2 separate regions of the Homo sapiens genome follow, and region 2 is linked to region 1. The links come from fine-mapping of genetic effects on gene expression. A gene starts in region 1. The other region holds a variant in brackets. All regions are shown on one strand. Distances are between the middles of the regions. Region 1 holds the start of SLC9C2 (solute carrier family 9 member C2 (putative)). Region 2 overlaps LOC105371619 (a long non-coding RNA gene).

Evidence for each region. PIP is the estimated chance that this variant, and not a neighbour inherited with it, causes the effect.
Region 2: its variant is the best candidate, but not a certain one, in a credible set for the expression of SLC9C2 in pituitary (GTEx, PIP 0.54).

What each region holds. Positions count from the first base shown.
Region 1 is chr1:173,600,651-173,605,050 of GRCh38, forward strand. SLC9C2 (solute carrier family 9 member C2 (putative)) reads right to left here and starts at 2,422. Exons shown (of 28, transcript NM_178527.4): 1 at 2,101-2,422; 2 at 1,000-1,205. The coding sequence starts at 1,126.
Region 2 is chr1:173,675,015-173,679,414 of GRCh38, forward strand. The region is part of intron 2 of LOC105371619 (a long non-coding RNA gene); the gene reads left to right. It also overlaps a transcript of ANKRD45 not described here. Among named protein-coding and RNA genes, the nearest start is that of ANKRD45, 7.4 kb to the left of the region's middle. The variant G/A (reference allele first, on the strand shown) is at 2,620.

The DNA.
Region 1 (4,400 bases):
AAGGAGCATCTGTACTTCTTACAGGTAAGACCAGATAAAGATATGTTTTTTACACTCTTTCTGCAATGCTCTTTACTACTGGAGCGTTTGTCTCTATAAAGGATATAGAGCTAGTCCATGGTCATCAGCAACTTGTGATATCAAAAGTGACCAAGGTCATTAGTGAGTATATTAAAGATTCCCAAAGAAAGCAATTTCACTCTTTGATACAATGGGTAAAATTGAAGGAGTTTATACATATTTGCTTCTGTATAGTATTCCTAGTTCCAGAAAGGATTTTAAAGCAGCTATTTTTCCTTTTTCCTAATCCCTAGTGTTGAATTGTGGACTAAAGCATCTGTGTGTTGAATATGTTACTTGATCTGCATGAATATCATTCTCTATACCTGTTGAATTCTTAATCATTGTTTAAGAGGTCCTTATTTGTGAAGCCTTTCCTAATTTCCTTCTTGGGGTTGGGGTGGGTTATTTATCTTCCCTGAAGAGAGATTACACCAAAAGCCATAATAAAATGGACAAAATGAATGACATCAATTATGTAAATCATGAATTGTATGCCTGGGCTCTATTTGTGTGTTTGCTCGCATTGTCCTCCCCTCATCTCAGATATTTTGGTCAGGTTAGGTCTGGCCAGGCAGGCAGTGTACAGCTCTTCCTCCTCCTTGTGAGCAGAGAATCTTGACGACAACTTTATAGTTATACTTAACACACTGCATAGTAATTATGTGTTTGCCAATCTCTCCCATGAGAGGGCTTCTTGAAGTTAAGTTATTCTTCTTACATGTCTACCACACTACCATGCTCAGCAAATGTCACTGAATACAGGAATATAGAATAGACACTACTTATAATTAAATGAAGCGAGATTGACAGTATTCACTCATGTCTTATCGTTTCAATGGGCCCCTTCTTTTGATGTTATGTAGTTGTGATGGCTTTCTGCATTGACAAAAGGTTCACAGGGCAGAGGAAAGATGAGTTTCAAAAACAACCACCTACCTCCCAAAACAACAATGAAGCATACAAGCGTTGTGAAATGTTTCTCTTCAACAAGGTAGTCAGCTGGCTGCCCGCAGAGTAAATCAGGTCTGTTACTTTCATTTTGTGCCCAGAAGTAAGAACTCATTTTTGCTGCTGCTTTTCCCCAGACCTAACTTGATGGAGTGGTTTGGTTATTATTGACACTTTCACTTCTGCATGCTAACCTGTATAGCATGCAAAAAGAACATGAGACCTACCAAGATCCAATTCATCCATACCATTTCTACCTAAGATTGTGCCACACTCAGATCTGAACATGTCTCTTCTTGTCACAGGGCACACATTAATACCTCTTGTCCTACCCCTTGCTCCAAGAACATTTTATAGGAACACTAACAGCAGTGTTAGTGTTTACTCCCTGTACTGTTACATGTATATGGGAGAGGGGGTGCATTGATAGGTGCACTTACCATTGTAATGATATAGTAATGTGCTTGCTTTCCCCATTGGACAGTGAGTTTCTCAAAGGCCAGGGCCCGAACTTTCCTTAAGGCTGTGCACATAGCATGTGGCACGAGATAGGCTGTCCAAAAATATTTGATGGGCTGAACTATTTGAGGGGGAAGGAGCATGGATAAATGTTATGCTCCCCCTTCTCTGTTGGTATAAATCATTCTGGAATTCCATTTTACCACTCCAGCCCTAATATATCTTTTTCTTCTCTCAGCACCCTTCCAATAAAAGATGGCAAATGGGAAACAAAGTCAAAGTTGAGTCACACCAGTTAAGGTTGGGGGTGAGGATAAGGGTGAATAACCTGAAAATAAAGGAAAAGACCAAGGTTTGATCATATGATGCCTTTGAGTGAATTAGAAAAAGGCCCCCTTCCTCAGAGCAATGAAGCCTGTCAACAAGGCACATGGCTTGGCATGTGACTACCAGGCTGGATTTCAGCCCCAGTATCTCACCTCAGCTGGTGCTCTGTGTAGGATGTAACCTGTGCAAATCTATGCAGTGGTCCTGAGAAAGATTTGTTCTGTTTTATTTTTCCTTGCAGCTAGCCTTAATCTAAAAATCCTAGAGGTTCCTCAAGTATCTCCAATAATATTTAAGGCTTACCTTTGGTCCTTTGTTTTGCAGGTCTACAGGTCACAATGATTCTGGTGTGAAGCAGAGGATGGGCCAGAAAGAGATTCAAAATGCTACATCTTCAAATCACTTCACCTGTCCCTCCAGTAGCCCTTCAGGTCCTTGGCATCTTCAACTCCTGCTATCCTCACATGTAATGACCCTCAAATTAAGTTCTACAAATTACCCAGATCAGAGATATGTTCCTTAAAGATTAAGCTGCTTTAAAGTTGAAATTGAGATGAAGGCTCTCAAAATCCCAAAGAACAATGCACAGTTATGCGTCTGTTTGCCAGGGACAGTACTACCAACTGATATCACACCAAAATCCATTTCCATGCCTACTTCTCATTGGTTTCTTGCCAGCCTGCTTTCGTTCTGATTGGCTGCCTACATTATCCCCACCCCCAATCCAGAAGAAGCCAAGTGATCTAGTTCTTGGGAAGCTTTCATTTTTTAACACTCAAGTTACGTAAGTACCCACAACTGTTTTAACTGATTTTTTTTTTTTTTGCTGACATTGTAGAATGAATTCATGAATTTTACAAGTATAATCAAAGACAACCAAAAATTTTTACTTTTCCCTTCAAAAGCTAAGTGTAGTGTAGCTCCCCTGTAGTCTAAGTTAGAGAAGAATACTAACAGCGTGTTTTTCCTTCTGTGCTCAGCAAGCCTTATCTGTACTTGCTAGTTTCACATTCCTTGAGGCTCAGGGAGTTCCTGTTTCACCTCCCTAGCGCAGCTGCAAAGTTACAAGGTTAATACAGAAACATGGTTTCCCAGGGATGTGGAACACGTAGCATAGATAAATGTAAAAGACTGATCAACTGCCTTTGTTCTCGCTCTTGTAAGTACGCTTCCTGCATCACGTAGCTCCTGGCCACTGACTGCTTAAAAGGTGGCTGCTTTCTTTGTCCAGGGCTCAGACTTTCCTGGACGCTAGTCCTACTGAGCCAGGTGATCACCTTTTAATAAAGACCTTTCCTGAACTCACTCTGTTCGGTCTCTCCCATCTTTGATTGTCCCAAAACAACATAATAGCTGAAATAGTCAAAGATATTAATGTAGACAGAATCTCCTTCTATATTTTTGATATATACTCTATATTTCTTATGCCAACACCATCTGGCTCAGCCCTAACCCTCTTCAACACAGTCTTGTCTCCTCTCTAATTCTTTTTCAGTCATACTGTTTCATTTTATTTTTCTACCTCTCCTTCCTTTTCAATGTTTCTCACTCCCATTTTCCTAACTCCTATCCATCATTGGTTTCCAGTCCTCAATTTGAAGAAACAATGTTACCCATTCTTCATGGGAGGACAAATGCATCCCAAATTCCATGATGCCTAACTTATATACTTCTTGCCTCAAATATAATTACTAAAAACAAATACAGTATAAATATTAAACAAATGAACAATAATCATCAATTGGTGGGTTACTTTCAAGGAAGAGTTGTTTTGTGACAAATTCTACTCTCTCATTCCTATACCACATTCACCAAGGTTGCTGCACATCATCTTCTTGAGGGCACCAAGGAGAACATCACAGCAGTAAGATTACACCTTCACTATGTATCAAGAAACCTCTGGCAAGTGAGTCTCAATTCCTACTTCAGACTAAACACAATTCTAATCAACAGCTCTATGACTGTGACAAGCAACATTGGTGCCCACATACTAGCTCCTAAAATATTCTTTATGACTTCCTTTTTTGTACAAACTGATGTGGTTCTTTTAAGCCACTGAGCTCATCCCTACTATAATGCCAAGGACTATGTTAAAAAGTAATTGGCTTATTCACAGGCCCTCTCCTAAGAGACCCATTCCTTACTCTTCCCTCTTCTGCCTTTACTTAACTCACCTCATTACCAAGTTCACTACCCTCCCGTTCGGATCTTCACCTTATCTATACTGGCTGTCACCTTGATTCCTCTCAAAATTAAGTTTGACTCTCTCCTTAGTCAAACTGATCTCAGCACTACTCAGTTTGAGTAATGCCCTTCCAGGTTCTGCCTAGTTCCCATCCTACTGCTGTCCCCTCAGGCTCACTCGGTTCACCTAAGCCCTGCAGCTAAGACTCCTGTAGGTTGAATTTAAGTTTCGAAGTTCAGATTCCCCATGGCCTTTAGAAAAATCCTCATACTTCAGGAAAAGTTGGAGAAAATCCATAAAGTCAGTTAGCTTACACATAGTTCTGAAAGCTAAAGAAAGCAATAACTAAAATATAGAGGTGATCAAATTTTTTATCCTTTCCCATGGAGCTTTTTTTTTAAAAAAAAGCAATAATAAA
Region 2 (4,400 bases), 74 kb after region 1:
CCTATGAAGAGAAAATAAGGGAAGGAAGGAGGAAAAACAACAACAAACAAAAGAACGATCCTGGAAAATCAATATAGGCCATATTGCTCTGAAGTCCATATATTAGTAGGCAGGTATGAAAGTGGCTTATGTACGTAAATAGGTTGCTATTATTTTCCTCTAAAGTTTAAGTTATTTAGCTTCAGTTCGCAGGGCTTTAAAAAAAAGTATAGCTTAGTTTTCAGTGACTCCAAATTAGGAAAAATGGAGAAAAAAGAAGGAAAAAAAATTGAAAACATTATTTTGCAGGCATGTAGCCAAGAAAAATTAGAATTCAGGCCAGTCACGGTGGCTCATGTCTGTAATCCCAGCACTTTGGGAGGCCGAGGCAGGTGGATCACCTGAGGTCAGGAGTCTGAGACCAGCTTGGCCAACATGGCAAAACCCCGTATCTACTAAACATACAAAAAACTAGCTAGGCATGCTGGCAGGTGCCTGTAATCCCAGCTACTTAGGAGGCTGAGGCAGGAGAATTGCTTGAACCCAGGGGGTAGAGGTTGCTGTGAGCCAAGATCATGTGACTACACTCCAGCCTGGGGAACAGAGGGAGACTCTGTCTCAAAAAGAAAAAAGAAAAAATAGAATTAGAATTCAGTCCAAACTGTAGAAAATAATAAAAATTGAAAAACAATAGGCAAGACTAGAATCTAACAACGGGTGTACTATAGTTTTTTAAACATAATTTTTCTTTATCCAGTTTCCCATTTTTATTAAAGACAAATCATGGTAAGACTGATTTGCTTTATTACACTTCACCTGATTATTTGTATACAATGTATCAAGAATAATTTTATTTTACATAGGCATTTAAATTGGCTTTGATGGAACTTTAGTCCATAGAAGGAATCTCAGATATGACTTTTTTAAAGCCAAGCCCAGCCATGGATTTGTACCATCAAATACCTATGAGTTGTGAATTCCTCTCCTCTCAATGTTCCAAGATAAACTTGGGGCTCTTGGGTCTGTCAGAAAGTGACATTCTTTACCTACCACAGGTCAGGAACCCTGTAAAGGGACTGTGTAGAAAAAGGTACGAGGCCAATTTTTCCAAGGGGCTTTTATTGGCTCCATAAGTCAAGTTTGATTCCTTAAATGAAAGCACACCATTTTAGTCAAAGCCTTGGTAAAATAACCAGTTTCTCCAATTGTGTCCTGTTAAAAATGAAGAAAGATTCTTATTGCACTTATGCAAATAATTGTATTGTCATAAGAATACTCACAAATAGTTTCCAAATTCTGTAGAAATCAGGTAGACAGAAACACATATGCTCCAACTTTTGTTCATAGGAGTACACTTAACTGTTAAAAGCTGTAAATAGCTTAAAAGTTTTCTTGACTCTGAAAAACAAAGGATCAGCAACGTTTTAAACAAAAAGTTAAAAAGATTACTTTAAACTTCTATTAGTTTAGTCCCTGCGGTTAATTCCTGTTCTGCTTGATAGTCATAAACATTTCAGCTCTTCATGAGTCCTGAAAGTTTTTCCTCTGTTCAAATGTTACAATCTCCAAAGTAATCAGAAACCTGCATTCAAGGGCACCTGTTAGAGTTTATAGCTGATTATAAAACCACCTTTTAAAGAGGACCAAAATAAGACAACAATCATTCATGGATGACAAAAAGTTTTAGGGCAGCCATAAAGATACAATTGACAAGGAAATTTGTTACCTTATGGCACACAATAATTTACCATAAAAATTATAATTATTACTGATAACATACACTAATTCATATTAGAATTATAGGAGTTTTCCACCTGGGTGACAGGGTGAGACTCCATCTCAAAAAAAAAAAAAAAAAAAGAATTATAGGAGTTTCCCATAATTTTTGAACACATGCCAATAACATCTTTATACAAATACAGCCCAAAGAAAACCAAACACCATTTCATGTTTGACAATGCTTCCTATATAATTTTTATACCAAATAAGCCAAATATGTCATTTTTGGACTTTAAGGAACCGGGAATATCTTAAAGGATTAATTAGGTCAGAAAAAGACATAATTTATAATTTGATTTTGGAAAGTTTGTCAAATATCAAAACTTTAAAACACTTGATATTACAAAATAGGATCACAGGTCATTGTAAAATAAGTCATTCATTTAACCAAAGTGATAACTGAAGGATTTTAAAAAAAAAAAGGTGCAAAACTTTTATTTTGAGAGAGGAAACAATTTTCCAAACAATAAACCCTAATAAAAACAACATGAAGTCAATTAAATTTGTTTTTCAAATTTTTATAAATATATAAAATTTTAATCTTGATCATAAGCTATAACTTCCATAAGCCTTTTATAATCTTTATTAATGTTTTGGTTAATGCTTAAAAAACAAACCATATTAATCTGACACAGGGGCTCATATGCTGGTCTTGCATCAGTGTGCCATTGATATTAATGGTTAATTTATAGAGAAACTGTACTTATTTTATGTCTTAAAATGGGCCCTTACAATCTCACACACCCACCTCTTCCTCAATAGTCCCTGGACCTTGAGGAGTTGAATGGTGTTAATTTCTGGCCCTCTGTCTCAGGAATGCAGTTTATTTTGATTGGCATCCTCTATGGGGCCTGAAGATGA[G/A]GATTTAACTGCTGTCAGTGTTTAAGACTTAGCAGGGCTTTGTGTCCATTTTAGACCCAGGAGTCAAATCCCTGTAACTTAGTGTTACAAGTACTTTAAAAGCACATACAGAAAGATACACGGATGTAATAACCTTAATTTTAAAAAAAAACAATTATCAGGTTTTTTTCCTAAGCAAAGTAAAACTTAATAATAATGGCATAGGAATTATTTCAATAAGACGTAAAATCTGTGAGGCCAGTTACCAAAAGGCAAAAGAAAAGACCTTCTGCAGTGTACAGGATATTATGTTGGAAGAAAACATTTCCTTTAGACCTTTAAGAAAATATTGTTAGCACCAGGCCACAACAAACAGAACTGTGGGGAAAAATAACTTAACTGAGCTGAACATGAGTTGAAAGAGAGCTTTATTATTTCATACCTTTTAAAGGGGGAGAAAAAAACAAAAATGGTGAAACCAAAAAAAGTCCAGGACAACACAGATTCACAGTCAAATACTACCAGACGTACAAAGAGGAACTGGTACCATTCCTTCTGAAACTATTCCAAACAATAGAAAATAGAATCCTCCCTAACTCATTTTATGAGCATCATCCTGATACAAAAACCTGGCAGAGACAAAACAAAAAAAGAAAATTTTAGGCCAATATCCCTGATGAACATCGATGCAAAAATCCTCAATAAAGTACTGGCAAAGCGAATGAAGCAGCACATCAGAAAGCTTATCTACCATGATCAAGTCAGCTTTATCCCTGGGATGCAAGCCTGGTTCAACATACGCAAATCATTAAACAGAATCCATCACATAAACAGAACCAATGACAAAACCCACATGATTATCTCAATAGAGATAAAAATGGCATGCAACAAAATTCAACAGCACTTTATGCTAAAAACTCTCAATAAACTAGGTGTTGATGGAAGGTATCTCAAAATAATAAGAGCTATTTATGACAAACCTACAGCCAATATCATACTGAATGGTCAAAAACTGGAAGCATTCCCTTTGAAAACTGGTGCAAGACAAAACTGGCACACACCATTTCAACATAGTATTGGAAGTTCTGGCCAGGGCAATCAGGCAAGAGAAAGAAATAAAGTGTATTCAATTAGAAAAAGAGGGAGTCAAATTGTCTCTGTTTGCAGATGACATGATTGTATATTTAGAAAACCCAACTATATCAGCCCCAAATCTCCTTAACCTGATAAGCAACTTCAGCAAAGTCTCAGGATACAAAGTCAATGTGCAAAAATCACAAGCATTTCTATACATCAATAACAGAGAGCCAAATCATGAGTGAACTTGCATTCACTATTGCTACAAAGAAAATAAAATACGTAGGAATCAAAATTACAACAGGTGTGAAGGACCTCTTCAAGGAGAACTACAAACCACTGCTCAACAAAATAAGAGGACACAAACAAATGGAAAAACATTCCATGCTCATAGATAGAAAGAATCAATATCGTGAAAATGGCCATACTGCCCAAAGTAATTTATAGATTCAATGCTATCCCCATCAAGCTACCATTGACTTTCTTCACAGAATTGGAAAAAACTACTTTAAAGTTCATATGGAACCAAAAAACAGCCCACATAGCCAAGACAGTCCTAAGCAAAAAGAACAAAGCTGGAAGCATCATGCTACCTGACTTCAAACTATACTACAAGGCTACAGTAAGCAAAACAGCATGGTACTGGTACCAGAACAGATATATAGACCAATGGAACAGAACAGAGGCCTCAGAAATAACACCACACATCTACAACCATCTGATCT